Regions from separate parts of the Homo sapiens genome. Here region 2 is linked to region 1. The links come from fine-mapping of genetic effects on gene expression. A gene starts in region 1. The other region holds a variant in brackets. All regions are shown on one strand. Distances are from middle to middle. Region 1 holds the start of TVP23A (trans-golgi network vesicle protein 23 homolog A). Region 2 has its middle 48 kb from the start of ATF7IP2.

Region 1 (16,193 bases):
CTGAAGTGCAGTGGTGCAATCACGGCTCATTGTAGCCTTGACCTCCTGGGCTCAAATAATCCTCCCTCCTCAGCTCTTCAGTAGCTGAGACTACAGGCGCACACCACCATGCCGGGCTAATTTTTGTATTTCTTATAGAAACAGGGTTTTGCTATGTTGTCCAGGCTTGTCTCTAACTCCCCAGCTCAAGTGATCCTCCCACCTCAGCCTCGTGAATAGCTGGGACTACAGGCATGCACCACCACGCCAGGCTAATTTTTTTTTTTAATTATTATTTTTGTGTAGAGACAGAGTCTCATTATGTTGCCCAGGCTGTTAATTATAATAATACATTCTCTTTAATCCACTATGTCTAAAAGATTATCATTACAGCATGTAAACAATTAAAACATGATTTCAATATTATTATTTTACATTCTTTTATTCCTACCAAGTCTTTTTTCTTTTCTTTTTTTTTTTTTTGAGACAGAGTCTCACTCTGTTGCCCATGCTGGAGTACAATGGCACGATCTCGGCTCACTGGAACCTCTGCCTCCTGGGTTCAAGCAATTCTCCTGTCTCAGCTTCCCAAGTAGGTGGAACTACACGTGCCCGCCACCACACCTGGCTAATTTTTGTATTTTTAGTAGAGATGGGGTTTCATCATATTGGTCAGGCTGGTATCGAACTCCTGACCTCAGGTGATCCACCTGCCTCGGCCTCCTAAAGTGCTGGGATTACAGGCGTGAGCCACCACGCCCGGCCTTTTATTCCTAACAAGTCTTCAATCTCTGCTGTGTACTTTGCCCTGATAGCCCATCTCCATCCAGCCTTACCCCATTTCAAGGGCTCAGTAATGACTTGTGGTTCCTGGATTAGACAGCACAGCTTTGCATGGGGGCATTTAGTGCACTTTTGACAAGCTCTAGTTTGTTGTTTTTTCACTTGGCTGTATTTATTTGTCTGTAACTAGAAAGTTGGCCTAAAGAGGGTCAGCAATCAGCAGCTTATATCTCTTGCTAAGAGCTGCGTCCATGTCCACACCAGCGTGCTGGGCACAGCTGGTGTCAGGATTTGCACCCAGGTCTGTCTGGGTAGAAATCCAGGGCTATTTCCATGTACCACTCCCTGCGCCTGACAAGGTGGATGGGGCCCTGAAGGCAGCCCACGGGAGGGGACCCTCCTTCTTCCCTTGGCCCTCTGCTCCGCCCTCCTGGGTAACCTGCACTGGCTGCCAGCCTGAAGAAGGACTGGACTAGGTCACCTGAAAGGAGCCTCTGTGAAACAGGCAGCAGTGTGACAGTCACAGGGGCAGCCATACAAACAGGAGGGTGGGAGCCCCCCAACCTCGTGGGCCTGGATGTCCCCTGGCCTGGAGTCATACCGTAACTGAGTAGCTTGGCTTCAAAATGCTTTTTTTTTTTGCTCTGTTCCCCAGGCTGGAGTGCAGTGGCACAATCTCGGCTCACTGCAACCTCCGCCTCCCGGGTTCAAGTGATTCTCCTACCTCAGCCTCCCAAGTAACCGGAATTACAGGCACCCACCACCACGCCCAGCTAATTTTTGTATTTTTAGCAGAGATGGGGTTTCATCATGTTGGCCATGCTGGTCTCAAACTCCTGACCTCAAGTAATCCACCTGGCCTGGGCCTCCCAAAGTGCTGGGATTACAGGCATGAGCCACTGTGCCAGGCCTCAAAACGCATTTTATACTTTTTTCCCTTTTTCTCTTTTCTCCTTAGTCTCAAGATGTAACGTCAAAACAAACTGCAGAAACCTTTTTTTCCCTCCTTAGTCTTTTTTTTTTTGAGACAGAGTCTCGCTCTATTGCCCAGCCTGGAGTGCAGTGGCATGATCTCGGCTCACTGCAACCTCCACCTCCTGGGTTCAAGTGATTCTCCTGACTCAGCCTCCCAAATAGCTGGGATTACAGGTGTGCACCACCATGCCCAGCTAATTTTTTGTATTTTTAGTAGAGACGGGGTTTCATCATACTGGCCAGGCTGGTCTCGAACTCCTGACCTTGTGATCCTCCCCTTCGGCCTCCCTCCTTAGTCTTAAAATATAGCCTTGAACTGTATTTTCAAACTCTGTCTCTCTCCCTTATCCCATGCACATTTATCTGGCTGTATGCTTGTATTAATTATGTGTTCACTTAGAAGTTCCAGGAGCTAACCTTGAAACATATCAGTCTTGGAGACCCAGCTGCAAAATTCCAGAGATTATCTCTAGGTGGTTTGTCAACAACCCGGCCATGGTTGGGATGATGCCAGGCTATGCTTCAGGTGGAGCAAGGCTCGAGATAGCCGCTGGAACAAGACAAACTGGCTTTGTACCCGGCACCACTCCCGTTCTAGGTTCCCTTTTTAAAATATTTTATTTTTTGAGACAGGGTCTAGCTCTGTCGCCCAGGCTGGAGTGTAGTAGCACAAATACACCTTACTGCAGCCTTAACCTCCTGGGCTCAAGTGATCCTCCTGCCTCAGCCTCCAGAGTAGTTGGGAGTACAGGTGTGTGCCACTGTGGCTGGCTAATTTTTTTATTTTTGTAGAGACAGGACCTCGCCATGTTGCCTAGGCTAGACTCGAAGTCCTGGGCTCAAATGATCCTCCCGCCTTGGCCGCCCAAAGTGCTGGAATGACATGTGTGAGCCACCGCTATGCCCAACCTTCCAAGTGCCCTTTTTTTAAGTCCCTCTCCCCAGGCTAAAGTTAGAAATGGTTCCTGTAAACACAAGCCTGGGCCATTTCCCCACCACTAGCCCTGGAATAAAGTCACTTTCCTTTCACTGCATCTCGTCCTTGTTATTGGCTTTGTAAGTGATCAGCAGCCGAGCCTGTGTATGGTTACAATAGGACTGCCAGAAAATAGGGGCCACCCAGATACATTTGAACTGGAAATAACACAAGTGATCTTTTTTTTTTTTTTTTTTTTTGAGACGGAGTCTTGCTCTGTCACCCAGGCTGGAGTGCAGTGGCACAATCTTGGCTTACTGCAACCCCCGCCTCCCTGGTTCAAGTGATTCTCCTGCCTCAGCATCCTGAATAGCTAGGACTACAGGCGCGTGCCACCAAGCTTGGCTAATTTTTTGTATTTTTAGTAGAGATGGGGTTTCACCTTGTTAGCCAGGATAGTCTCAATCTCCTGACCTCGTGATTTGCCCGCCTCAGCCTCCCAAAGTACTGGGATTACAGGCATGAGCCACCATGCCCGGCCACAAGTGATCATTTTTAAGTATAATTATGTCCCAAATATTGCATGGAACATACTTGCACTAAAAAAATTGTCATTTATTTCAAATTCTAATTTAGCTCAGTTTCTGTATTTTTTTCTTTTTTTTTTTTTTTTGAGACAGGGTCTCACTCTGTCGCTCAGGCTGGAGTGCAGTGGGGCAATCTTGGCTCACTGCAACCTCTGTCCCCCAGGTTCAAGCAATTCTCCTGCCTAAGCCTTCCTTGTAGCTGGGATTACAGGTGCACACCACCACGTACAGCTAATTTTTGTATTTTTAATCAGGATGGGGTTTCACCATGTTGGCCAGGCTGGTCTTAAACTCCTGACCTCAAATGAACAGCCTGCCTTGGCCTCCCCCAAAGTGTTGGAATTACAGGCGTGAGCCACCATGCCCTGCCTGAGTTCCCTTATTTTTATTTGCTAGATCTGGCAACCCTACCTGGGGAGAAATGACAGGATCGTCGTCAGATGCCAGGGAGTGGGGTGCAGATCTTAGGGGCCAGTGGGATCGTAGGGAGTGCCACTCATAGGAATGCTGGGCTGAGGGTGATGAGCAGCTGCTGGCTTTGGTGTGACAGGTTTGGGGGCTGCCACTTCCATCCTGCCTGGTGGGGACACGGAGTGCATCTTGGGCCTTTTCAGGCCCCAGATGTAGTCAAACTCTTTCCACTCCCCACTGACCCTCTATGCCAACTGCCCTTTGCTCGCAGCTAAAGAGTCAAACACTCTGCGTGTCTTACAGCCTGCCATGGTCCTGCCAGACTGACGTCTCCTTCCTCCCCTGGCCGAATGTTCTCCTCCAGCCTCTGGGTTCCAGCACCCTGACCTGTGTTTGCCAGAATTCACACCCAAGCCTCTGCCTCCTGGTCCAGGACTCCTGGGGTCACTGGAGAGAAAGACTGTGTGTGTACCTCTGTCCAGGTGCCCTATGTCCCGGGGGCACGCAGTGTGAGGCCAACAGGAGCCACTCAGGAAAGGCCAGCCCTGTTCTGCTGGGAAGACAGATATCCCCAGCAGAGGCCCCTGACACGAGGCTCCTGTCCTGTGTGCTGCTGGCCCATGGGGGCTCCTGACCCGAGACCCCTCTGCTGATGACCTTAAGTCACTGTCAACAAGGCCGCTGTTTCCTGAGCCCCTATTCAGAGAAAGGAATCTGACATGTTTTCTCTGGTCCTTCATCATCCTTGCCAGGTAGGGGGAAAGTATGGCGCCACTTTACAGATGTGGAGACTGAGGCCAGAGAGGTGAAGTCCCCTGCCTAAGGTGACCTGTCCCCTCCCCAACAAAGCCTGCAGACTCCAGATGTTGACCTCCAAGGTCAGCCAGAGGCCAGTGGCTACCTGAGCCTGGACCTCCTTCCCTGGGGTTGTTCTGGCTTCAAGGTCCCAAGCCCAGCTGCAGGGATCGGAGATGGGGTTGCTTCTCACAGGTCTACTCCCCAAATCCTTCAGGGGCCAAGACCAGTGTGGGTAGGGGGAGGGGAGAGGGCCAGTGTTTCCCAAAGGTCGGGCTTCCAAGCCCTCTCTGCGGCTCTTATTAAGGCAGATCTCCAAGCCGCAACCCTGGAGGTTCAGAAAACCTAGAGTGAGATCCTAAAATCTACCCTTTTGTTTGTTTGTTTGTTGTTTTTTTTCCGAGACTGAATCTCACTGTGTGGCCCAGGCTGGAGTGCAGTGGCGCAATCACAGCTCACCACAACCTCCACTTCCCGGGTTCAAGCGATTCTCCTGCCTCAGCCTCCTGAGTAGCTGAGATTACAGGCTTGCGCCACCATGCCCGGCTCATTTTTTGTATTTTTAGTAGAGATGGGGTTTCGCCATATTGGCCAGGCTGATCTCAAACTCCTGACTTCAAGTGATCTACCCACCTCGGCCTCCCAAAGTGCTGGGATTACAGGTGTGAGCCACTGTGCCCGGCCTAAAATCTACCTTTCAACCAGGTGTCTCTGCCGCAGCCAGTTTTAAAACCAAGATGAGTTCTCTGTGCAACCCTCAGGCCCTCTGCCCACCCCTCAGATTCAGGAAGCTGACCCCACAGAGGGCCGTCTGGGCCACGTGTAGAGGGAGGGTGCTTTCTTCCAAGGAGGGAATAATAGGGCTTCATATGTGGCCCCAGCATCTGTATCCTCAGCCCTCTGCCCCATGTGGACAGGTCAGGAGGGATGGAAGTGACCCTGTATTTATAGAGCCACCTCCAGATGGCAGGAGCTGAGGATATTTCTGGAGGAACCTCCAACCCAGTGGCTGAGAATGACAGTTGGTCCTGACTGGGGATTCCACGGGGGTTTTCCCATGACTCCAGGAACCCCAACTCAACAGACACCAACAGCTGGTGATTCTTAGGGTCAGAGAAAAAGCCCCTAAATGTTCTGCAACGGCTTCTTCCCTCCAGCTGCCCTCCTGCCTCCTTCCTCCCAATATCCCCTTCCCAGGCTGCTGGGGCCCCGCTGGGAGTGGGCCTCTCCGTTCACCCTTCTGGGCAGGAAGAGCTCACAGGCCTTTCTAGAAAACCAGGCCTTGGTGGTTTAGATCTTTACAATTCAAAGGGTGGTCCAGGGAGCAGCAGCATCAGCTTCTCCCACGGGCTCTCAGAAATGCAGGATCTCAGCCGGATGTGGTGGCTCACGGCTGTAATTCCAGCCTTTTGGGAGGCTGAAGCAGGCAGATCACTTGAGGTCAGGAGTTCGAGACCAGCCTGGCCAACATGGTGAAACCCTGTCTCTACTAAAAACACAAAAATTAGCCAGGCGTGGTGGTATGTTCCTGTAGTCCCAGCTACTTAAGGGGCTGAGGCACAAGAATCACTTGAACCCAGGAGGTGGAGGTTGCAGTGAGCTGAGATCTAGCCACTGACTCCATCTCAAGAAAGAAAGAAAGGAAGGAAGGAAGGAGAAAAGAAAAGAAAGGAAGGAAAGAAAGGAAGAAAGAATCTCAGCCCCTGCCCAGACCCCCAGACCCCCAGAACGCTGAGTCAGCATCCAGCTTCTAAGCCAACCCCAGGAGATTCATTTGCAGATTGAGGGGTCAGAAGCACTCATTTAAATCACTGGTTCTTTACCTTGCAGCCCAACACCTGGGAGCTTTAAAAGCACTGGTATAGGGTCCCATCCCCAGAGAGCCTGATTTAATTGGTCCATAACACAATCTGGGCAGTGTGTCTTTTAGAAGCTATCCAAATCGCAGCAGAGTTTGGCAAATATATATACATATACATATATATATATATATATATATATATATATATATATATATATATATACATACACACACACATATATACACATTGTATATATATAAATCTTGGTTCCTGAAGATCGCATAGTAGAGGCTGGGTGCAGTGGTTCATGCCTGTAATCCCAGCTCTTTGGGAGGCCAAGGTGGGTGGATCACCTGCGGTCAGGAGTTGGAGACCAGCCTGGCCAACATGGTGAAACCCCCTCTCTACTAAAAATACAAAATACAAAAATTACCCGGGTTGATGTCAGGCGCCTGTAATACCAGCTACCTGGGAGGCTGAGGCAGGAGAATTGCAGGAACCCGGGAGGCAGGGGTTGCAGTGAGCCGAGATCGCACCATTGCACTCCAGCCTGGGTGACAAGAGGGAAACTCCATCTCAAAAAAAAAAAAAAAGAGAAATGGCATAGGAGAAAGCACTTTCCCTCCACACACACCTGGCAGGCCCTTGTGGGGTCAGCTTAGGGAATTGGGGTGGGGGCGGAGGACAGAAAGCCTGGAACCCAGGCCCAGGATCAGAGATGAGACAGCTCCTGCCTCCACCTCCGCCCATGGAGACCAGCAGTGGGGAAAATGTGTCAGGGGCTTGTGGCCCAGGAGCCCTCTTTGGGGTCACCAGGGGCAGGGGACACGTACCTATTGTCCATGGTGGGAGGGCAAAGGGCAGGGTCACTGGCTTTGGCATCTCGATGCTCAGCCCTCTGTCCGTGGGTGGGGGATCAGGACAGGGAGAGGGCACGCAGGAGAGGAGAGTCACTGTGTCCTGGGCCAGGAAAGACCCTCAGGTGACAAGTTTTCTTTCCTGGGAGGTACCCAGGAAGACTTTCACTTCAAGAAACACTACTATTACTGTCAATAATAGTATTAATACTACTAATAACTTTGCGCTTAATAAGTGCCTGGCACGGCGATGCACGCAGATCTCACTGTGGTTCTGAAGCTGTGGCTATAGCAGCGCCACCCCTTAAAAGGCAGGTGAGGCCGGGTGTGGTGGCTCACTCCTGTAATCCCAACACTTTGGGAGGCTGAGGCAGGAGGATGGCTTGAACCTCGGTGTTCAAGACTAGCCGGGGCGACATAGTGAGACCCTCCTCTCTACAAAAATAAAAATTTAGCTAGGTGTGGTGGTGCAGCCTGTGGTCCCAGCTTTTCGGGAGGCTGAGGCGGGAGGACTGCTTGAGCCCTGGAGTTTGAGGCCACAGTGAGCTACGATGGCACCAGTGCTCTCCAGCCTAGGTGCAGAGAATGTTCCCAACAATCTCTGCACGCAAGAAATTCCCAGGAACCTTGTGAAAAGCAGATTCTCAGGCCCGGCCCGGGGGATGTGGAAGGCCTGGAGTGGGGCCCTAGAATCTGCCTTCCCCACCCCACCCCCCAAAAAAGAACACAGCAGGGCCCATCCTAACTGCATTTTGTCGTGGGGGGTGGGGGCGCGGGGAAGGCAGATTCTAGGGCCCCACTCCAGGCCTTCCACATCCCCCGGGCCGGGCCTGAGAATCTGCTTTTCACAAGGTTCCTGGGAATTTCTTGCGCGCAGAGACTGTTGGGAAACACTGACCTTCTCCCAACCCTGAATGCGGCTGCCCACCACTGACATTCATTCACTGCCTTATCATTCGCTACATCCACGTTTATGCGCCGTCCACACCATTCGCTGACGCAGCCGCCCCCCGCCCCCGACTCCCATTCCTCCCACTATCTCTGTCCGCAGTTCCCCAGGCCGTTGCCTCCCTGCCGCCGCTTTCTCTCCTGGGCGCGTCCCCGGCGAGCCGAGCCCCCTCCCCAGCCTGCGACTGCGCCTTAGGCCCCGAGCGCCCCGCCCCACCCGAGAAGCTGCGCTGAGGCTGCCCCACAGGGCGCAGGCCCCGACCCTCAGCGTCCACCGTCTGCTGCCTACATCCGCCCGCCCGGCGTCCGACCCCTTCAGCGGCGACGGGCGGAGCTGGAGCCCCGGGCCTGGGCGCCAGGTGGGCTCCTGGGAGGGTGATGAAGCAGGTAGGGCCTCGGGGATGCTGGGGCTGGAGGCGGGGCGGGACGAGGGGAGCCTGCGGGAGCGCTGGAGAAGCCGGGAGGAGGAGGAGGGATGCGCCGGGGCCTGGGGCTGGGCTGCACCCGGTGGTCGGGAGGGTGGAGAGGGCTTTGCACTGCAGCCGCAGCGGAGGGGCCCCGCCAGCTCGGAGGGTCCACTTGGGAACCCGGTGGGGTGCAAGTGGAGTCCAAGCCCAGGAGGACAGGGCGGGTGGGGTTGGGGTGTGCGCCGTGCTTGGGCCTGCCACCTGCCCTTGCTCTCCTCCCAGGCCCTGGTGGACGATACCGAGGATGTGTCCCTGGACTTTGGAAACGAGGAGGAGCTGGCCTTTAGGAAAGCCAAGATCAGGTGTGTTGGGATGGAGCTTGGGTCAGGCGTTCCCCAAAGCTGCAAATTCATTCATTTACTCACTCATTCATTCAAAATATATTGAGCACCTACTGTGTGCCAGGTCTGGGGCTGGGGACATATCTGTGGACACATCAGACAAAGTCCCTGCCCTCCTGGAGCCTGCATTGGGAGAGGGAGGAAGAAGGGGTGGAGTTGATGTTGAACAGGCAAGGAGATTAATGAGATAATTGAATGTGAGAAGAAAATCAGCCCTGTGATGAAAGAGAAGGTAACTAGAGAAGGCCACTTGCCTTAGTGCAGCCATGGAGGGCCTCTCTGAGGAGGTGGCATTTGAGCTGAGACCAGAATGATGAGAAGCAGCCAGCCATGGGAGACTCCAGAGGGAGAGTGTTCCAAGCTGAAGGAACAGCAAGCGCAAAGGCCCTGGGGCTATGTTGTAAGATCAGAGAAAGCCACTGAGGCCAGAGGGGAGCAAGCTTGGCAGTGGGCTGGACAAGTGGAAGAGAGCTTGGAGTTTTATTCTAATCCCTGCTGAGTCTAGCTAGACAGACTTGTCCTGGGTCAAGTCACTTAACTGCCTGAGACCTCTAGCATCCCAGAAGGTGGCATGACCAAGGCATGAGGGATGACCTGTGAACGTGGTTGCCGATGGCCCAGGCGGCAGCCACTTCTAGAAACACCCACAGCTCAGCCTCACTCACCCACCCAGTTCTGCTTCCAGCTATCAGAGCCAGTAGGCATGGGACGAGCCCTGGCACCCAAATGCCATTCCTTGTAAAGTCTCTGTTTTTAAAATCAAACTCTCTGATTCAAACCTAATAAACCCCAGAAAGTAATAGACTGTATTAGTTTCCTATGGCCGCTAGAACAAATTACCATTATCATCTTGGCTTAAGACAAAAGAAGTTTATTCTCCTGCAGTTCTGGAGGCCAGAAGTCCACAGTCAGTGTTCCTGGGCTGAAACCAAGGTGGCAGCAGTGCCACACTCCCTTCGGAAGAATTAGGGGAAAATCCATTCTTTGCCTTTTCCAGCTTTTGGTGACTGCTGGCATTCTGTGGCTTGTGGCCTGTTCCTCCGTCTTCAAGGCCAGTGTTATAGCATGTTCACATCTCTCTCTGTTCCATGGTCAGGTGACGTGTGTGTGTGTGTGTGTGTGTGTGTGTGTGTGTGTGAAGTTTCCCTGTGCCTCTTTCTTTTTTTTTATTTTATTTATTTTTTATTATTATTGTACTTTAAGTTTTAGGGTACATGTGCACAACGTGAAGGTTCGTTACATATGTATACATGTGCCATGTTGGTGTGCTGCACCCATTAACTCGTCATTTAGCATTAGGTATATCACCTAATGCTATCCCTCCCCACTTCCCCCGTGCCTCTTTCTTATAAGGACTATTGTGTTGGCATTTAGCGTCCACCCAGATAATCTAGGATAACCTTTGCATCTCAAGATCCTTAATTATAGGCTGAGTGCATGGCTCACACCTGTAAGTAATCTCAGCACTTTGGGAGGCCAAGGCGGGCAGATCACTTGAGGTCAGAAGTTTGTGACCAGCCTGGCCAACATGGTGAAACCCTGTTTCTACAAAAAATACAAAAATTAGCTGGGTGTAGTGGCATGCACCTGTAATCTCAGCCACTCAGGAGGCTGGGGAAGGAGAATCACTTGAACCCGGGAGGTAGAGGCTGCAGTGGGCTGAGATCACACCACTACACTCCAGTCTGGGCGACAGAGTGAGACCCTGTCTCAAAAAAAAAAAATTCTTAATTAAATAATTAAATTACATCTGCAAAGTCCCTTTCATCATATATGGTGGCTGTCACAATTTCTGGGGATTAGAACCTGGATTTCTTTTTTTTTTTTTTTTTTTTGAGATAGGGTTTTGCTCTGTTGCCAAGGCTATATAGTGCAGTAGTACAATTATGGCTCACTGGAACCTCAAACTTTTGGGTTCAAGAGTTCCTCCTGCCTCAGCCTCCCTAGTAGCTAGGACTATAGGTGTTGCCACCATGCCAGGCTAATTTTTTAAAAATTTAATTTTGTAGAGATGGGGTCTTGGTATGTTGTCCAGGCTGATCTGGAACTTCCGGCCTCAAGTACTCTTCCCGTGTCAGCCTCTTAAAGCCTTGGGATTACAGGCATGAGCCACTGCACCCATCCAGGACCTGGATATTTTCGGAGGCTATTATTCATCCCACCATAATGGCCAATGATTATCTTTAAGGGAAGACACTGCAAATGAAGATTCCAAAAGAACTGGAATCCTGGGTAAAGAATCTTCTAGAACATCTGAACTCATATGTGTTCAATTTCTATTGAGTATCTACTGTATGCTCAACTCTGGGCTAGTGGCTGGGGAAATGCAGTGTTCAGGACCCCACTCCTGCCTTTACAGATTGCCCAATCTAGGGCAGGTTTGCTTAATGTTAGCACTCCAGACATTTTAGGCCAGATACTTCTTTGCTGTAAGGAGTGTCCTGTGCACCGTGGGATGTTTAGCAGCATTCCTGGCCTCTATTCACCAGATGCCAGTAGCAGCCCATCCATAAAGTCTCAGGCATTGCCAAATATCCTCTGTGGGGCAAACTTGCCCCCGGTTGAAAACCACTGGTTTGCAGGGTGGGAGTAGGCATACCAGTGGCTATTACAACTCAGTATTTTTGTTTTGTTTTGTTTTTGTTTTTGTTTTTGAGATGGAGTCTCACTGTCACCCACGCTGGAGCACAGTGGTGCAATCTCGGCTCACTACAACCTCTGCCTCTTGGGTTCAAGCAGTTCTCCCGCCTCAGTCTCCCAAGTAGCTGGGACTGCAGGTGCACGCCACCACGCTTGGCTGATTTTTATGTTTTTTGTTTTGTTTTGTTTTAGTAGAGATGGAGTTTCGCCATGTTGGCCAGGCTGGTCTCAAACTCCTGATCTCAGCCTCCCTACCTACCTACTTCAGCCTCCCACAGTGCTGAGATTATAGGTGTGAGCCACTGTGCCTGGCCAGAACTCAGTATTTTAAACGCTGGGATAGGCAGAAGCTGGGGCTCCTATCCTGGCCAGAGAAGGAGGTACCAGCTAAGCTGGGACCCACAGGTAGGGTAGGAGTTGGTTAGGCTGGGAAGGGTAGATATACCATGGGGAGGCTTGGAGGTAAGGTCATGAATTTAGGGTGGTTCCATGTGGCTCAAGACCCAGGTGCTGGGAAGTGGCCTGCGTGGAGATCGGGGCCAGACCCTGCAGCACTTAGCAACCAAGCTCCAAGCTCTGGAGGTGCATTGTCCACTGAACCTTCTATGAGGATGGGGCTGTGCCTTTATCTGTGCTGTGCAGCACGGTGGCCTCAGCCACCTGTGGTGATTAAATGTCTGAAATGTGGCCAGGGCGCCTGAGGGACAAATGTTTTGATATTATTTAATTAATTTGAATGTAAATAGCCACATGTGGCTGTGGCATTGGGCAGGGCAGTTCCAGAGTTCGGTCACCATGGAAGGATTTTGCTCAGGGCAGTGATGGAGGCTGGGTTGTTGGGGTGGAAGTAGGATAGGAGATCAGACCAAGGCACTGGCAGGGATGACAGAGGAAAGGGGCCCAGAGGCACAGGGGAGGTAGAATCGGCCCGCCTTGCTGGTGGTCAAGATGTGGGGTAGGGACAGGGATCATCAGGGTGACACTCAGGCTGGTGGTCTGGTGAGTCAGGTGAAGAAGCACTTCTGGGGGAAAGATGTTGAACTCAGAGTGGTCCTTGTTAGTCTGTGTTGGAACATTCTAGTAGCCAGTGGACAGCTGGGAGGAGAGGCCAGGAGCTCGAGAAGTCACCAGGGCTGCAATCAGAGATCTGGGAGGCAGCAGTTCATGTATCCAGGTGGGTATGTTTGAGAGCCACCCATCCCAGAATCCTCGGTGTGCCTAATGCAGATTCCTGGGTCTGGCCCTGGACTTATTTAACCAGATTCACAGGGGATGGGCCTAGGAACATGAATTTAAAATAGCACCCCATTGATTCTGATGTGTAGGAATGTAGAGATGGCTCTAAAATCCTGAGAACAAATGAATTTACCCAGATTGCAGTGTAGAAAGGGAATTTTTTTTTTTTTTTTTTTTTTTTTTTTTTTGAGATGGAGTTTCACTCTTTTTGCCCAGGCTGGAGTGCAGTGGTGCGATCTCGGCTCACTGCAACCTCTGCCTCCCGGGTTCAAGTGATTCTCCTGCCTCAGCCTCCTGAGTAGCTGGGATTACAGGTGCGTGCCACCACGCTGGCTAATTTTGTATTTTTAGTAGAGACAGGGTTTCATCATGTTGGCCAGGCTTGAACTCCTGATCTTGAGTGATCCTAGTGCCTTGGCCTCCCAAAGTGCTGGGATTACAGGCGTGAGCCACCATGCCCGGCCTAGAAAGGGAATTCTTAACTGAGGTCTACAGATGGGCTTCAGGGGTTCAGGAAACCTCTGAAAACTATTATCTAAGTTTCATATGTGTGTTGTTTTAGAAAAAGGATCCAAACTTTATTTATTTATTTGTTTATTTGTTTGTTTATGAGACGGAGTCTTGCTATGTTGTCCATGCTGATCTCAAACTCCTGGACTCAAGCGATCTCTCTGCCTCATCTTCCCAAAGTGCTCCCAAAGGATCCAAACATTAATTGGATTATCAAATGGGCCCATGATCCAAAAAAGTTAAGAATCGCTAGTATAGAGTGAAAACAGTTATTTGTAAATCCCTTGTTGAAATGGATTCCAGGCTGACATCGAAAGGAGGTGATGCTGTGGAAGGGGGCCTGTCACAGGAGTCTGGGACATTGGGTTCATCTCTTCCTTTATCACTTTCTGGCTTTGTGATTTTTGGACAGGTCACCTTACTTTGCTGGGCCTCCATTGGCCAGTCGGTAAAATGGGGATAATTGTATCAGCCTGACTTCACCACGTGGTTATTATACAGTTTATTTACTAAATATTTATTCAACATCTGCCAGGGGCAGGTGCTGGGCTAAGCCCTGGGGATGGAGCTCTGGTCTCTGCTCTTTCTGTCCCTGGTTCCAGGTCAGTGAGGTGCAGTGTTGCGGTGGGGGGCCTGGGAAGTACATCACATCTTGCAGGATCAGTGGAGGGTGTGATTCCACAGCAGAGCTGGGCACACAGAGGAAATGTTAGCCATGCTGTATGTGTTTTTCCCCGGTGGGCAAACTTTTTATTTCTTTTTACTTTTTTTTTCAACTTTAAAAAACTGTGATTAAAAAAAACCCACAGCGTAAAATTCCATCTTAGTCATTTTAAATTATACAGTTTAGTAGTTCAAGTATAGTCACGTTGTGAAACAGAGTGTTTTCATCTTGCAAAACTGAAACTCTGTGCCGTTTAACAACTCTCCTTCCCCCAGCCCCTGGTAAATACCATTCTCCTTTCTGTCTGTATGCATTTGACTACTCTAGGGACCCCATAAAAGGGTCATACAGTATTTGTCCTTTTTTTATTGGCTTACTTCACTTAGCATAACGTCCTCAAGTTTCATCCATGTTACAAAATGTGCCAGAATTTCCTTCCTTTTTAAGGCTGGATAATAGTTCCATGATATGAATAAACTATGTTTTGTTGACCCATTCATCCACTTGGGTACACTTGTACCTCTTGCTGTTGAGAACAGTACTGCAATGAATGTGGGTATGCAAATCTCTTTTTGAGATTCTGCTTTCAATTCTTTTGGCCATATACCCACAAGTGGGATTGCTGGATCCTATGGTAGTTCTATTTTTAATTTTTTGAGGAACTACCATACTGTTTTCCACATCAGTTACACCATTTTACAATCCCATCAACACTGTACAAGGGTCCCAGTTTCTCCGCATCCTTGCCAACATTGTTATTGACTGTGTTTTTGATAGTAACCACCTCATGGGTGTGATAACCATGGTATTTCGTTGTGGTGTAGATTGGCATATCCCTAATGGTTAATGATGCTGCTGAGCATTTTTTCATGTGCTATGTGTCCACTTGTATATCACCTTTGGAGAAATGTCTATTCAAGTCTCTTGCCCGTTTTTTTTAATCAGTTATCGGATTTTTGTTGTTGAGGTCTTTATTCTGTATATTAATATTTTCTCTTATTCTATAGGCTGCCTTTTCATTCTGTTGGTTGTGTCTTCTGATGCACAAAAGTTTTTAGGTTTAATGTAATTCCGTTTGCCTTTTTGTACTTTTTTTTTTTTTTTTTTTTTGAGACGGAGTCTTGCTCTGTCCCCCAGGCTGGAGTGCAGTGGCGTGATCTTGGCTCACTGCAAGCTCCACTTCCCGGGTTCACGCCATTCTCCTGCCTCAGCCTGCCGAGTAGATGGGACTACAGGTGCCAGCCACCATGCCCGGCTAACTTTTTGTATTTTTAGTAGAGACGGGGTTTCACCATGTTAGCCAGGATGGTCTCGATCTCCTGACCTCGTGATCCGCCCGCCTCGGCCTCCTAAAGTGGCCGATTTGTACCTTTTGTTTCCTTTGCTTTTAGTGTCAGTGTATGTGTGTGTGTGTGTGTGTTTAATTTAATATAATATAATTCATGGCCAGGCACTGTGGCTCATGCCTGTAGTTCCAGCACTTTGGGAGGCTGAGTCAGGTGGATTGCTTGAGGCCAGGAGTTTGAGACCAGCCTGAGCAACATGGCAAAACCCCGTTATCTACAGAAAATACAAAAAGTAGCCAGACGTGGTGGCACACACCTGTAGTCCCAGGTACTTGGGAGGCTGAGGTAGGAAGATTGCTTGAGCCTGGGAGGTCAAGGCTGCAGTAAGCCATTATCACACCACTGCACTCTAGCCTGGGTGACAGAGCAAGATCCTGTCTCAAAAAACAAAATAAATAAAAAGAAATATAATTCACATTCCACCAATTTCTTCTTTAAAAGTGTATGATTCAGTTTTGATTTTGATACATTCACAAGGTTGTACATCCATTACTACTATGTAGTTCCAGAAGTTTTTCACTGCGCCAAATGGGAGCCCTGTACCCATCAGACAGTCCCTACCCATCTTCCCTTTCCCCAAGCCCCTGGGAACCACTAGTCTACTTTCTGTTCCTATGAATTTGCCTGTTCCGGACATTTCATGTAAATGAAATCTGGGTTAGTCATGGATCTCCAAAGAAACAAAACCAATAGGATATCTGTAAGTATGGAGAAAGAGATTTATTATGAGGAATTCATTCATGCAATTTTGGAGACTGAGAAGTCCCACGATCTGCCATCCACAAGCAGCAGGCCCAGGAACGCCGGTGGCATAAAACCCATCCTAGCCCGAAGGCCTGGGAACCAGGGGAGCCTACAGTGTCTCATTCTGAATCTGAAAGCCCCAGAACAGAGGGGCCGACGTGTAAGGCCTAGTCTGACTCCAAAGGCCCCAAA
Region 2 (16,193 bases), 480 kb after region 1:
ATTTACCATACCACTCAGCCATTTCTTTTTTTCTTTCTTTTTAAAATACTTTCAACTTTTGTTTTAGATTCAGGGGTACACGACCAAGTTTGTTACCTGGGCATATTGTGTGATGTTGAGATTTGGGGTCCAATTGATTCCATCACCCAGGTACTGAGCATAATACACAATAGAGAGTTTTTCAGCCCTTGCCTCCTCTCCTGCCTCCCCTTTCTAGGAGTCTCCAGTGTCTACTGTTGGCACCTTTATGTCCATGAGTAACCAGTGTTCAGCTCCCACTCAAAAGTCAGAACACGCGGTATTTGGTTTTCTGTTCCTGCATTAATTCCCTTGGGATAATTGCCTCCAACTGCATCCATGTTGCTGCAAAGAACATGATTTTGTTCTTCTTTATGGCTGCATACTCAGCATTTTCATATCTAGGTATCTATCCCAGAGAGCTACAGTCACAAAAAATGTTTGAGATGAATATCATTAGCAGATTTATTCTGGAAACAATTTTAATATCCACAACACAAAATTGGACAAATTTACGCACATTCTTGAATGGAATCCTACTGAGCAATGAAAAGGAGCAATACAAAAACACAGATGAATCTCAAAGACATTACATAGGCCAGGTGTGGTGGTTTGCACCTGTAACCCCAGCACTTTCGGAGGCTGAGGCCAGCAGATCACCAGGTCACGAGATTGAGACCATCCTGGCTAACATGATGAAACCCTGTCTCTACTAAAAATATAAAAAATTAGCCGGGTGTGGTGGCACATGCCTGTAGTCCCAGCTACACGAGAGGCTGAAGCAGTTGAATCCTTTGAACCTGGGAGGCGGAGGTTGCAGTAAGCCGAGATTGCGCCACTGCACTCCAGCCTGGGTGACAGAGCGAGACTCCATCTCAAAAAAAAAAAAAAAAAAAAAAGTTTACTAAACATATCCAGGACTTAACAAACCCAAGAAATGTCCCAATGCCCTGATATCTTAAAGACAAAAGCATTCTTTTCGAGAATAAGTTTCATTTTAAAGATAAGATTTCAGTCTGGGCACAGTGGCTCATGCCTGTTATCCCAGCACTTCGGGAAGCCACGGCAGGCAGATCACTTGAGCTCGGGAATTCGAGACCAGCCTGGCCAACACAGTGAAACCCTGACTCTACTAAAAACACAAAAATTAGCCAGGTGTGGTGGTGCTCGCCTGTAGTCCCAGCTACTGGGGAGGCTGAGACATGAGAATCACTTGAACTTGGGAGGTGAAAGTTGCAGTGAACTAAGATTGCACCACTGCACTCCAGCCTGGGTGACAAAGCAAGAATGTGTCTTAAATAAATAAATAAATAAATAAATAAATAAATAAATAAATAGATTATTGCAAAAGTCTGTAGTTACACAAAGGTTAACAATTCTTTGTCACAAGAGCTTGCATTAGAGAAAATCTCCCCCTTGATTTTTTGGCTTGTCTTATATATAAACAGGCATTGTACCTAAGGTGGGCACCTTCCTTCTCTTGCTTTTGGGAACACCCTGTTCTGTCTAGGCAGTAGTTATCCTTATATTCCTTTACTTTTTTTTTTTTTTTTTTTTTTTGAGACAAGGTCTCACTCGATCACCCACGCTGGAGTGCAGTGGCACAATTTTAGTTCACTGCGACCTCTGCCACCCGAGTTCAAGTGATTCTCCTGCCTCAGCCACCAGAGTGGCTGGGATTACAGGCTCCTGCTACCATGCCTGGCTAATTTTTGTGTTTTAGTAGAGATAGGGTTTCACCATGTTGGCCAGGCTGGTCTCAAACTCCTGAGCTCAAGCAATCCACCTGCCTCGGCCTCCCAAAATGCTGGGATTACAGCATGAACCACCGTGCTGGGCCTATTCCCTTACTTTCACTTTACTCTGTGGACTCACCCCAAATTCTTTCTTGCTTAAATTCCATGAAGCCTCTCTTGGGGTCTGGATTGGGACCTCTTTCTGGTAACATATTCATTTCCTAGGGCAACCATAACAAATTACTACAAATGGGGTGACCTGAAAAAACAAAAATGTATTCTCTTACAGTTTAGAAGGCTTGGAGTCTGCATTCAAGGTGTTGGTCGGGCCATGCTTGCTCTGAAGGCCTCAGGGGAGGATCCTTCCTCACCTCTTCTAGAAAGGTGGCTCCAGGTGTTCCTTGGCATTCCTTGATCTGCAGCTGTATCACTCCAAGGCCAAGGCACTTTGTCCCTTAAAGGCTTGCTGAAAAATCTCTGACATGAGGTAGTTTGAGAAGTGGGAGAAAAGGCATACACATTTATTTAACACATATACCAAGGAGCCTTCTTGTTTTTTTTTTATGAAGTTTCACTCTTGTTACTCAGGTTGGAGTGCAATGGTACAATCTCAGCACACTGCAACCTGCATCTCCTGGGTTCAAGTGATTGTCCTGCCTCAGCCTCCTGAGTAGTTGGAATTACAGGTGCGCACCACCATACTGGTCTAAGTTTTGTATTTTTAGTAGAGACAGGGTTTCACCATGTTGTCCAGGCTGGTCTCGAACTCCTGGCCTCAGCTGATCCACCTGCCTTGGCCTCCCAAAGTGCTGGGATTACAGGCAAGAGCCACCTTGCCTAGCCTTGTTGCAGGAATCAGGAGACCAGAGAGACCAATGGGTGGGACGGAAGGATTTTATTAAGGTGCGCACCAGCTCAGTGGATTTGCATCCAAAAGACTGAGCTGCGAACAAAGACGGCTTGACTTTTGTACATGCATCTGAAGGGTGGTTGGCTAGTTTGAAACAAGCTTACAGTGGCGCAAAATGCAGTGGTGTGAAAGCAAGTTTACAGAAACAGAACAGGGACCGTTTATCAACAGTAACAGGCTTGCAAGTCAGGCTCACTTAGGCATGTCATCTGACCCTTGCTGTATGGCCCATATGGCTGTAATTTAGGTTTGCTCAGGCTTATCTTGGGACCTTCACTGTGGTGCCCAGATGGCTGCAATCTAGGCTTGCTCAAGCTTATCTTGTGACCTTCGCTGTGCTGCCTTGATGGAGACCAGGTACTTACAGAAACCAGCTGCGGAACACAGGAATTTACAAGCCTACAGAACTTACAGAACAGGGTGCAATAGCAGGGAGTGGGTGGGGAGCTGCCTAAAGCAAAAATTCATGTTTTCTTTTTATATCTCCTGCTTCAGCCTTACATGAGAGCTTTCAAAATGAAGATCTGACATCCCAGTGAAGTAAAAAGGCTTCTATTTCATCTTGAGGTTACAGAGAGAATATGAGCTTGGATCCTGGTAAAACAGGTGATGGGAGGGAGGATAGGAGGAATTTGGTGGAGTGGTTACTAGGAAGAATGAGTGGAGCATAGATTAACTTCTAAACAATTCTCTTTATGATTTAAATGATCCTTGCAGACAGTCATTATACTGTTCAGGTGTGGTTAAATTATTAGCCTTAAAGGGAGAGAAAGAAAAACCAATTGTTCTCTGTGGGGGGTCTAGATCTTAGGCAGATGGAGGAACTTCAGTTTCTATGGAAGAGGCTGTGTGGCAGTGGGGCATTACAGCACAGGGGTCCCGATTCAGACCCCAAGAGAGGGTTCTTGGATCTCACGCAAGAAGGAATTCAGGGAGAGTCCGCACAGCAAAGTAAAAGCAAATTTATTAAGAAAGTAAAGGAATAAAAGAATGGCTACTCTGTAGACAGACCAGCTGTGAAAGCTGCTGGTTGTCCATTTTTATGGTTATTGCTTGATAATATGCTACACAAGGGGTGGATTATTCATGCCTCCCCTTTTTAGACCATATAGGGCAACTTCCTGACATTACCATGACATTTGTAAACTGTCATGGCGCTAGTGGGAGTGTAGCAGTGAGGATGACCAGAGGTCACTCTCATCACCATTTTGGTTTTGCTGGGTTTTGGCCAGCTCCTTTACTGCAAACTGTTTTATCAGCAAAGTTTTTATGACCTGTATTTTGTGTTGAGCTCCTGTCTCATCCTGTGACTTAGAATGCCTTAACCATCTGGGAATGCAGCCCAGAGATTATGAGTCAAATCAGCCTTCCTGAGAACTCAGAGGTTGTGTTTTAATGGATAATTTGGTGGGCAGCGGGGCTAGGGAATGGGTGTTGTTGATTGGTGGGCGATGAAATCATAGCGGTATGAAAAACGGTCCTCTTGCACTCAGTCTGCCTCTGGCTGAGGGCCACAGGACTGGTTGAGTCATGAGTCACAGGTCCAGGTAGGGTCAATTGATTGTCAGAATGCAAAAGTATGAAAAACATTTACAATCTTAGGCACTATAATAGTGATGTTATCTCTGGGTGTGGTGGCTCATGCCTATAATCCCAGCACTTTGGGAGGCCAAGTTAGGCGGATCACCTGAGGTCAGGAGTTTGAGACCAGCCTGGCCAACATGGAGAAACCCCATGGCTACTAAAAATACAAATATTAGCTGGGTGTGGTGGTGGGTGACTGGAATCCCAGCTACTCAGGAGGCTGAGACAGGAGAATCGCTTGAACCCAGGAGGCAGAGGTTGCAGTGAGCCGAGATTGCTTCACTGCACTCCAGCCTGGGCAACAGAGCTAAAAATAATTAGCTGGGTGTGGTGGAACATGTCTGTAATCCCAGCTACTTGGGAGGCTGAGGCAGGAGATCACTTGAACCCGGGAGGCGGAGGTTTCGGTGAGTCAACTTTGAGCCATTGTACTCCAGCCAGTGCAACAAGAGTGAAAAAAAGAATAGAAAAAAAAAGAATTTTTAAAAAAAGACATAAGACATTTCCTATAGGGCCTGAGATAACTTTCTGGGGTAATAGAAATAGTCTGTATCTTGATTGTGGTGGCTATTACACAGGTGTACACATTTGTCAAACCCACGAAATGGTACACTTTTGTTTTTTTTGAGACAGAGTGTCATTCTGTTGCTCAGGCTGGAGTGCAGTGGTGTGATCTCAGCTCACTGAAACCTCTACCTCCCAGGTTCAAGCAATTCTCCTGTCTCAGCCTCCCAAGTAGCTGGGACTACAAGCATGCACCACCATGCCTGGCTAATATTTTTTTGGTAATTTTTAGTAGAGATGGGGTTTTACCATGTGGGCCAGTCTGGTCTTGAACTCCTGACCTCAAGTGATCCACCTGCCTTGGCATCCCAAAGTGCTGGGATTCCAGGTGTAAGCCACCACACCTGACCTGTATACTTTTTAAAATAGGTTTTTTTTTTTTTTTTTTTTTTTTTTTGTGACAGAGTGTTGCTCGGTTGCCCAGTCTGGAGTGTAGTGGCATTATCTTGGCTCACTGTAACCTCCGCCTCCCAGGTTCAAACCATTCTTGTGCCTCAGCCTCCCAAGTAGCTGGGATTACAGGTGCCTGCCACCACACTTGGCTAATTTTTGTATGTTAGCAGAGATGGGGTTTCACCATGTTGGCCAGGCTGGTTTCAAACTCCTGACCCCAGGTGACCTACTCACCTCAGCCTCCCAAAGTGCTGGGATTACAGGCATGAGCCACTGTGCCCAGCCAAAATAGGGGAATTTTATTATAAGTTACACTGTTGCAGGAATCAAGGGACAGGAGAGACCAATGGGTGGGACATGAGGATTTTATTAGGTGAGCACCAGCCCAGTGGATTAACATCCAAAGGCTGAGCCCTGAGCAAAGACAGGGCTTGACTTTTATACATGCATCTGAAATGGGGTTGGCCGGTTTGATGGCGCGAAACCTGTAGAGCAGGCAAGCGAGCTTACAGAAGCAGAACAAAGGCAGTTTGTCAAACAGTGATAGGTTTTAGAACTCAAACTTATCTTGTGACCTTGCCGTGCTGCACAGAAGGGAAAAACAGGAACTTACAAAACTTGCAAAAATAATTATGAGAACAGAACAAGGAACAACGGTAAGGGGGAAGAATCTGAAGGGGGAAGCTGAAAGAAAAACTTGTTTTCTTCATCCCTGCTCTGGGATGGGAGGGAGAGGCTCTGGATCCCATCCCTTCTGGGCCCTGCCTCTGTAGATAGTGCTATCAAAGTCCCAACAGAGCCCTGCCCATTGCTGGGCCTTTGAGTGAGTCAGCCTAGTACAGGAAAACTTGTTTTTCTTTTTATGTCTTCTGCTTCAATACCACCTTAAAGTTAATTCTTAAAAAAGTAAGGTTCTCTACATGTAAGGTCCTCTGAATGGGCTACACCATGGTCAAGCCATTGTGACCCCTGTGACCCACACATACAGGCCTCCTGGAGTCACAAAGCCTGGAGCAACAAGAGAACCACTAAAGAAGAAGAAACAGCTAGTTCCTGCCTTAACTGATTAACCAAATTTGCAACATTCCACCATTGTCATATGTTCCTGCCCTACCCTAACTAATCAATCGACCTTGTGATACGGTGCCTTGTGACCTCCCCCTACCTCATGACTATGCATCTTATGACATTCTTCCCCTGCCCAAAAAAACTGCCCCTAAATGTAACTTTCCTCTTCCTACCCCAAACCTATAAAACCAGTTCCACTCCCACCACCCTTCATTGACTCCTTTCTCAGACTCAGCCGACTTGCACCCAAGTAAACAGCCTTGTTGCTCACACTAATCCTACTCAGGTGTTCCCTTATAAAGATGTGTGTAACACTATGCACTGCAGGTAAACACAAAGGAGGAGCACTTTGCACTTTTTTAGAAGATTTTTTTTTTTTTAAGAGACAAGGTCTCACTCTACCACCCAGGCTGGAGTATGATCATACCACACTGCAGCCTCAAACTCCTGGGCTCAAGCAATCCTCTCACTTCAGCCTCCTGAGTAGCTAGGACTACAGGTGTACAAAATTAGCCTAATTTTCACTTTTCATTTTTTGTAGAGACAGGCTCTCGCCATGTTCCCTAGGCTGGTGTCAAACTGCCAGCCTCAAGCAATCCTCCTACCTCAGCCTCCCTAAGTGCTGCAATTACAGTTATGAGCCACTGTGCCCAGTCCCATGCACTCTTTCAAGAGTGTAGGAAACTTCTTGGAAGGGATGGTATTGGAACTTCTACTTGAAGAATGAATAGGGCCGTATGGCAA[T/C]TTAAAACCAGATCCTGAAATTCCATGGCCCTGCCCCCATCAAGATCTGTGACTGGTGATCTTTTTTTTTTTTTTTTTTTTTTTTGAGACGGACTCTCGGTCTGTCACCCAGGCTGGAGTACAGTGGTACAATCTCAGCTCATCGCAACCTCCGCCTCCCAGGTTCAAGCAATTCTCCTGCCTCAGCCTCCCGAGTATCTGGGACTACAGGTGCATGCCACCATGCCCAGCTAATTTTTGTATTTTTGGTAGAGATGGGGTTTCACCATGTTGGCCAGATGGTCTCGATTTCTTGACCTCGTGATCTGCCCACCTCGGCCTCCCAAAGTGTTGGGATTATAGGCGTGAGCCACCCCGCCAGGCCTGTGGATACTCATATTTAATGACTCAACCACTAGAATGAAGTAGAATTGATGCTGTGCTAGCTTCTGGGCCCACCTTTAGACAGGGGCAGCTTTTGCTTCTTGTCCCTTGGTCTAGGAACCCAGCCACCATGCTGTGAGGAAGCCCGTATAGCCTGCAGAGAGCTGGTGTGGAAAGGAACTGAACCCCTCCCTCCCAGACCTGGCTGGGTTCCCAGCTGACAGCCAGCCCTAGCTTGCTTATTATTTTAAGCTGAAGACATTTGAGATTCAACAGATGTGGAAAGAAGCCTTCTGGGAGCTGCCTTCATTTGACTAAAAGCAGCATCTTCTGGGAAATAAGGCTACCATAAACCCTCTCTCTTTGAGAGCATCATAGCCAAGAACAAGAAAGACACTTGCACCTGCATAAACAAACATTACCGCAGACTTTACTTCTCATTTTTTCTCCTAAAATCCTATTTATCTTTCCTAAAGAAACCTATTTGTTCTTCTCATAAGAGCCTTTTCTCTCCCCTCCCTTTTCCCTTAGGTGTATAAGCCTTTAACTCTAATCATTTAATGTACAAGCCACTTTTTTTTTTTTGAGACATTCTCACTCTGTCATCCAGACTGGAGTGCAGTGGCATGATCATGGCTCACTGCAGCCTCGACCTCCCAGGCTCAAGCAATCCTTTCACCCCTCAGCCTCCCCAGTAGTTGATGCAGGTGTATGCCACCACAGCCAGCTAATTTTTTTTTTTTTTGTAAAGATGGGGTCTCACCATATTGCCTGGGCTGGTCTCAAACTTCTGAGCTCAAGCAATTCCCCGCTTCAGCCTCCCAAATTTCTAGATTGTAGGCTTGAGCCACTGCACCTGGTCAGCAAGCTACTTCTTTTTTTTTTTTTTTTGACGGAATCTCACTCTGTTGCCTAGGCTGGAGTGCAGTGGCGTGATCCTGGCTCACTGCAACCTCTGCCTCCTGGGTTGCAGCAGTCTTCCTGCCACGGCCTCCCAAGTAGCTGGGATTACAGGTGTGTGCCACTACACCCAGCTAATTTTTGTATTTTTAGTGGAGATGGGGTTTCGCCATGTTGGCCAGGCTGGCCTTGAACTCCTGACCTCAGGTGATTCACCCACCTCAGCCTCCCAAATTGCTGGGATTACAGGCGTGAGCCACCGCGCCCGGCCTGCAAGCTACTTCTTTTGTTGGCTCCTGTATTGCATACATATAAGCCGTTTTTCTCGTGTTAATCTAGCTTTCTTCACCTTAATTCGCAGTCCGCCACACCCCCCACCACCCAAAAGAACCTAAAAGGGTAGAGGAAAAGTTTTTCCTCCTCCACACCATAAATAGTCACAAGTCAGGCTTTGCTACCAAATGAGTTCACTGGGGAAAAAAATCAATTTAGTTTTAAAACTATTTTGGATGTGAATTTTGGAAGTGCACTTAAGAGGAAGTGCACTTAAAGAACTTGGGTCAGGTGCAGTGGCTCACACCTGTAATCCCAGCCCTTTGGGAGGCTGAGGTGGGCGGATCACTTGAGGTCAGGAGTTTGAGACCAGCGTGGCCAATGCGGTGAAACCCCATCTCTACCAAAAATATAAAAAGTTAGCTGGGTGTGGTGGTGCATGCCTGTAATCCCAGCTACTGGGGAGGCCGAGGCAGGAGAATCACTGGGACCCAGGAGGCAGAGGTTGCAGTGAGCCTAGATCATGCCACTGCACTCTGGCCCAGATGACAGAACAAGACTCTGCCTCAAAAAAAAAAAAAAAAAGTGCTGGGCGCAGTGGCTCATGCTTGTAATCCCAGCACTTTGTGAGGCTGAGGCGGGCGGATCACGAGGTCAGGAGATCGAGACCACGGTGAAACCCTGTCTCTACTAAAAATACACACAAAAAAATAAGATTAGCCAGGCGTGGTGGAGGGCGCCTGTAGTCCCAGCTACTTGGAGAGGCTGAGGCAGGAGGATGGCGTGAACCCAGGAGGCGGAGGTTGCAGCGAGCCAAGATCGCGCCACTGCACTCCACCCTGGGTGACAGAGAGAGATGCCATCTCAAAAAAAAAAAAAAAAAAAAAAAAAGAATAGCAAGGGTGGAGGGTTGGCTGTGGGTGGGGAAGTTTTGAAAAATGTTACCGGAATATACTTACCCATTGCTACTGTGAATATATAAAGACGTATGGCATATAAGATCTTCTGGTGCCAGGCATGGTGGCTCACACTTCTAATCTCAGCACTTTGTGAGGTTAGCTTGAGCCCAGGAGTTTGAGACCAGCCTGAACAACATGGCAAAATCTTGTGTCTATGAAAACTACAAAAATTCGCAGGACCTGGTGGCGCTCACCTGTAGTCCCGGCTACTCAGGAGGCTAAGGTGGAAGAATCACTTGAGCCTGGGAGGTCAAGGCTGCAGGGAACCCTGATCATGCCACTGCACTGCAGCCTGGGAGACAAAGTGAGACCCTGTCTCAAAAAAAAAAAAAAAAAAAAAAAGATGTTCTTGCAGTTTTCTTATGATTTGCTCTACGGTGTGATTAATAACAGTTGCTGTTGCAATAATTCCTGCTATATTTTGACACAGTGCTGTGAAAAGAAATCCAACATGGAGGCCAGGCGTGGTGGCTCACGCCTGCAATCCCAGCACTTTGGGAGGCCGAGGTGGGCGGATCACCTGAGGTCGGGAGCTCGAGACCAGCCTGGCCAACATGGAGAAACCCTGTCTCTATTAAAAATACAAAATTAGCTGGGCATTGTGGCACATGCCTGTAATCCCAGCTACTAAGGAGGCTGAGGCAGGAGAATCGCTTGAACCTAGGAGGCGGAGGTTGCGGTGAGCCGAGATTGCGCCATTGCACTCCAGTCTGGGAAACGAGCAAAACTCCGTCTCAAAAAAAAAAAAAAAGAAAGAAAGCCAACGTGGAGATGATTTGTCGGAGGTCTCTGTCAAGGAGCCAGGAGGGCAAAAGTTGGCCCTCAGTCATATATGGATCCAGAGGGATCTGACCTGTTTGAACTGGGCCAGATCGCAAACGTTCTGGAGAAGCAGCTTCATTGGGTTTGAACTGCTCACACTGGGGCAGATCACGAACCTCCTGAAGACACAGCTGTGCTGAATTTTAAGCTGATCATGGCCTAGAGTCTTTCTAAGCTGTCAGCTGGCCTATAGGGGGAGGAAAAAACAAACAAATGAAAAAAACAAGAAGAAATGTTTTATTCAAGGAATACAGGCCCCTTTAAGCCATCAGGCCAAAGAGGCATTGAAATGAAACAGCAGTTAGGTTACTTCCCTTTGAATTAATAATCACCTTATTTTTTATTTTTTTTTTTCAGAGACAGGGTCCGCCTCTGTGGCCCAGGCTGGACTGCAGTGGCACCGTCACAGCTCACTGCAGCCTCCCCCTCCTGGGCTCAAGTGATCCTCCCATCTCAGCCTCCTGAGTAGCTGGGACTGCAAGCACACACCAGCATGCATGGCTAATTTTTAAATTTTTTGTAGAGACAGGGTCTCACTGTGTTGTCTAGGCTGGTCTCAAACTCTTAGGCCCAAGCAATCCTCTGGCTTTCACCCCTGAGTAGCTGGGGCTACAGGTGTGCACCACCATGTCCGGCTAAATTTTTAAAAAGTTTTCAGCAGAGATATAGTCGCCCTATGTTGCCCAGGCTGGTCTCACACTCCTGGGCTCAAGTCATCCTCCCACTTCAACCTCCCAAAGTGCTGGGATTACAGGCTTGAGTCACTGCACCCAGCCAAATAATAATCACCTCTTGAAGCCACTTGCTGTGTGGCTTCTACACTTAACTAAGGCCACGTACCCCTAAAATACCAAATGCCCTACAGTTCACCAATATATAGCCAATCACTAGCCAATGTTATTTCTGTAAACCCATGAGAATTCCTAACAATGTTTGTAATCACCCTCTCTCCTCATTGGTTATTTTTTCTTTAAAAACTTCAGCCTCTCTAATGTCCTCTGGAGCACGCCCCACAGCAAGTTGGAAGTGTGTCCTGGACTGCTGCCCTCAACCTTGACCCAAATAAACTTTATATTAATATTGTCTCAGCTTCTCCCTTTGAGGTTGACAGGTCATGTGTCAATCACAGACTGTGCTACTGTCTTCCGCTTAGGTAAACTTGCAGTAAACCTTTAGAAACCCCTGCCTAGAGTCTTGCCTGGCTGAAACACGTTTTAGCTACTTGCTAGATTTGTTTCTCCCAAATTGCAATGCATAAAAACCCTGATTAAAATGCCTTCCTGGGCCAGGTGCAGTGACTCACGCCTGTAATTCCAGCACTTTGGGAGGCCAAGGATGGTGGATCACCTGAGGTCAGGAATGCCAGACCAGCCTGGCCAACATGGGGAAACCCCATCTCTACAAAAATACAAAAATTAGCCGGGCATGATGGCGGATGCCTGTAGTCCCAGCTACTCAGGAGGCTGAGGTGGGAGAATCATTTGAATCTGGGAGGTGGAGATTGCATGGAGCTGAGATCACTCCACTGCACTCCAGCCTGGGTGACAGATCGAGACTCTGTCTCAAAAATAAAATGGGCGGGGCACGGTGGCTCACGCTTGTCATCCCAGCACTTTGGGAAGCCGACATGGGCAGATCACAGGGTCAGGAGTTCGAGACCAGCCTGGCCAACATGGTGAAGCCCCGTCTCCACTAAAAATACAAAATGAGCCGGGTGTGGTGGCGCATGTCTGTAATCCAAGCTACTCGGGAGGCTGAGGCAGGAGAATCACTTGAACCCCTGGAGGCAGAGCTTTCAGTAAGCTGAGATCGTGCCACTGGACTCTACCCTGGATGACAAAGCGAGACTCTGTGTCAAAAAAATAAAAATAAAATAAAATAAAAGTCCCTCCCTTTGTTTGTGGCTCCCCAGTGTTGGTTGATAGTGCATGGATGAAATGTATAATGCCTCCTGAGTTCTCCTGCCCTTCAGGAAGGTTTTTTACACATATAGTGGCCTCAGATGCATTTCTTGATTTGGAGTTGAGGGTGGAATCTTGGCAGAATTGACAGAAGAGGCACCAGTGGGACAGAGGAGGGACAAGGGGAGCAACCTTTTTTTTGTTTAATAATGAGGGGGGAGGCGATGGCCTTCTCCTCCTTCCTCCCAGGGTGTCTCCTTAAAAACATAACAGGCCCCACAAAAAGTTGAAGGAGTGAAGAACGTGCCAACCCAAAATATGCTAGATTGGCATATTGATTATTTCGAGTTGAAAACATTGATGAAATTGTGGTTGGTATGTTTGCTTGTTTTATTTATTTTGAGATAGAGTCTCATTTTGTTGCCCAGGCTGGAGTGCAATGGCGCAATCACAGCTCACTGCAGCCTTCACCTCCTGGGCCCAAGCATTTGTCCTACTTCAGCTTCCTGAGTAGCTGGGTCTGTAGGTGTGCATCACCACACCCACTCAAGAGGAAATATACACTTTTTTTTTTTTTTGAGACGGAGTCTCTCTCTGTGTCACCCAGGCTGGAGGGCAGTGGTGCGATCTCGGCTCACTGCAACCTCCGCCTCCCGGGTTCAAGCGATTCTCCTACCTTAGCCTCCCAAGCAGCTGGGACTACAGGTATGCGCCATCACGCCCAGCTAATTTTTGTATTTTTAGTAGAGACGGGGTTTCACCATGTTGGCCAGGATGATCTCGATCTCTTGACCTTGTGATCTGCCCACCTCAGCCTCCCAAAGTGCTGGAATTACAGGCATGAGCCACCCCATCCGGCCCACATTTTATTAGTTTTACATGTACATGGGGATCTTCACAAGAAACAAAAAAATGATTCTTTTTTTTAGATGGAATCTTGCTCTATTGCCCAGGCTGGAGCGTAGTGGCGTGATCTCAGCTCACTGCAACTTCCGCCTCCTAGATTCAAGCAGTTCTCCTGTCTGAGCCTCCTGAGTAGCTGGGATTACAGGCACACACCACTACGTCCAGCTAATTTTTGTGTTTTTAGTACAGAAGGGGTTTCATCATGTTGGCCAGGCTGGTCTTGAAGTCCTGAGCCCAAGTGATGTGCCTGCCTTGGCCTCCCATAGTGCTGGGATTACAGGTGTCAGTCACCGTGCTCGGGCCCAAGAATGTGATTCTTCACGAGCAGGAAGATTGGTTGGGCCCAAGAGTTTGAGACCAGCTAGGCAACATAGCAAGACCCTATCTCTATAAAAAGAAAAGTGAAATAATTATCTGGGCTTGGTGGAGCATGCCTGTAATCACAGCTACTTGAGTGGCTGAGGCAAGAGGATGGTTTGAGCCCAGGAGTTTGAGGCTGTAGTGAGCTATGATCATGCCACTGCACTCCAGCCTGGTGACAGAGCAAGAGCAAGACCTTGCTCTAAAAAAAAAAATTAAAAAGGGCTAACTGACCTCTCTCTTTGTGCATGCAGCAGGCCATAAAAATTCCTCTGGGAGGAGGGCTGTCACATACCAGGGTGAGAAAATAGCCCTTATCACCAGAGACTGGGAATTGGGGACTGTGATGGACCTGAATAAACATACTTAATGAAACAATCTTTATCTTCCACTGTTTGACACCCCCATATATCTCCTAGCAACTCCCCTAGAAAATTTATTGCCCTAGCCAGGTTTTCCTGTCATTTCTTCTCAAATGTAATCTAAATAGTGTACAAATAGTATACAAGCATCTATCTTTAGCCACTTGTTTGAACTTCACGCTATTATGAAGACCCCCATGTACAGGTAAAACTAATAAAATGTATATACTTTTGTTAATCTGCATGGTGTCAATTTGGTGTCTAGATCCAGCCAAAGAGCCCACATAGGAGCTAAAGGGGAGCTGGAGGTGACCACTGGCTCCTTTACAAGGTCCAGCCTTTTGATTTCATAGCACAAAATCATGGGCTTTCTGAGGCCAGGCACAGTGGCTCATGCCTGTAATCCCAGCACTTTGGGAGGCTGAGGAGACCGGTGATCATAAGGTCAGGAGTTTGAGACCAGCCTGACCAACATGGTGAAACCCTGTCTCTATTAAAAATACAAAAATTAGCTGGGCATGGTGGCACGCACCTGTAATCTCAGCTACTCAGGAGGCTGAGGCAGGAGAATCGCTTGAACCCGGGAGGTGGAGGTTGCAGTGAGCCGAGATCACACCACTGCCCTCCAGCCTGGGCGACACAGAGCGAGACTCCGTCTCAAAAAAAAAAAAAAAAATTATGGGCTTTCTGATCCTTGGAACTGTAAACACGCACCTCCAAGGCTGACATAGAAGGAGGAGTACAGGAGGCAATCCAGAGATAAGATTTTCTTTTAAATTTTTATTTTTTTGGAGACAAGTCTCACTCTGTTGCCCAGGCTGTAGTGCAGTCATTCCATCATAGCTTACTGCAGCCTCAGGCTCCTGGGCTCAAGTGCTCCTTCTGCCTCAGCTTCCTGAGTAGCTGGGTTATAGACGCGCACAACAAGCCTAGCTAATTTATTGTTTACTTTTTGTAGAGACGGGGTGTTGCTCTGTTGTCCAGGCTGGTCTTGAACTCCTGGGTTCAAGTGATACTCTCGCCTCAGTCTCCTAAAGTTCTGGGAGTACAGGAGTGAGCCACTGCACCTGACCCAATAAGAGATGCTTCAATTATTCTCTCTTCTACTTTTCTGTAAATTCTGTTCAGATTTTGTCCAGACTATCAGAAAAAAAAGAAAGAAAGAAAGAAAAGAAAGAAAGAAAAAAAAAGGAATCAACAGGTCAGAGGCAAATAAGCATTTATTCAGGAATGGGGGTTGCAACCAGGCCCCAGAGACCACCACCCAAGAGGGACAAGAAAGGCTTATAGGAAATTTTTCAGATGACATAAATTACCAGATTATTTTATTGATGGATTAAGCAAAGAAGTTGTTAGTCATTAGTGGAAGGGTACATTTGGGTCAGTTAGGAAAAAACTACACAGACTGTCCCTAAAGATTAGGACCAGATTCCTTGTATTGTATATTGTCGAGAGCATGGTTGTTTGTGAGAGAACTGTTTTTCACAGTTCTTTGTGGGTCTCAAAGTCCACCACCCAATCTAGGCACAGTGGCTCACACCTAAAATCCTAGTACTTTGGGAGGCTGAGGCAGGCAGATTAGCCCAGGAGTTCAAGACCAGCCTGGGCAACATGGTGAAACTCTGTCTCTACAAAAAATACAAAAATATTAGCTGGGTGTGGTGGTGCACACCTGTCGTTCCAGCTACTCAGGAGTTTGAGACAGGAGGATTGCATAAGCCTGGGAGGTTGAGGCTGCAGTGAGCCACTGAGCCATAGTCGTGCCACTGCACTCCAGCGTGGGAGACAGAGACTCTGTCTCAAAAAAAAAAAAAAAAAAAAAGTTCATCATTAGTTCAGTCTGGGGTCAGTAGCCCAAGATAGAGTCCCCGATGTCAAGCGTAGAACAATGCTCTATTCAAACACTCAAATGACCTGTGACAGAGATTCTCTTCTTCACCAAACTCTACTCAGGTTCTCCTAAACTCTTTGTCCAGTAGGTTTCAACTTTTGGAGTTCCGTGTTGATAAAAAAAAAAAATTTCAGGCCGGGCGTGGTGGCTCACACCTGTAATCCCAGTACTTTGGGAAGTTGAGGCAGGTGGATCACCTGAAGTCAGGAGTTCGAGACCAGCCTGGCCAACATGGTGAAATCCCATCTGTACAGAAAATAAAAAAAATTAGCTGGGCATGGTGGTGGGTGCCTGTAATCCCAGCTACTTGGGAGGCTGAGGCAGGAGAATTGCTTGAACCCGCAAGACGGAGGTTGCAGTGAGGCGAGATTGCACCAGTGCACTCCAGCCTGGGCGACAGAGCAAAACTCTGTCTCAAAAAAAAAAAAAAGAAAAGAAA

The links. PIP is the estimated chance that this variant, and not a neighbour inherited with it, causes the effect.
Region 2: its variant is fine-mapped to the expression of TVP23A in ovary (GTEx, PIP above 0.99).

What each region holds. Positions count from the first base shown.
Region 1 is chr16:10,810,732-10,826,924 of GRCh38, reverse strand. It overlaps TVP23A (trans-golgi network vesicle protein 23 homolog A), which reads left to right and starts at 8,131. Exons shown (of 8, transcript NM_001079512.4): 1 at 8,131-8,440; 2 at 8,743-8,822. The coding sequence starts at 8,432. RefSeq lists enhancers at 5,384-5,593, 13,714-13,763.
Region 2 is chr16:10,330,039-10,346,231 of GRCh38, reverse strand. No RefSeq gene overlaps it. Among named protein-coding and RNA genes, the nearest start is that of ATF7IP2, 48 kb to the left of the region's middle. RefSeq lists a silencer at 14,473-14,673. The variant T/C (reference allele first, on the strand shown) is at 7,018.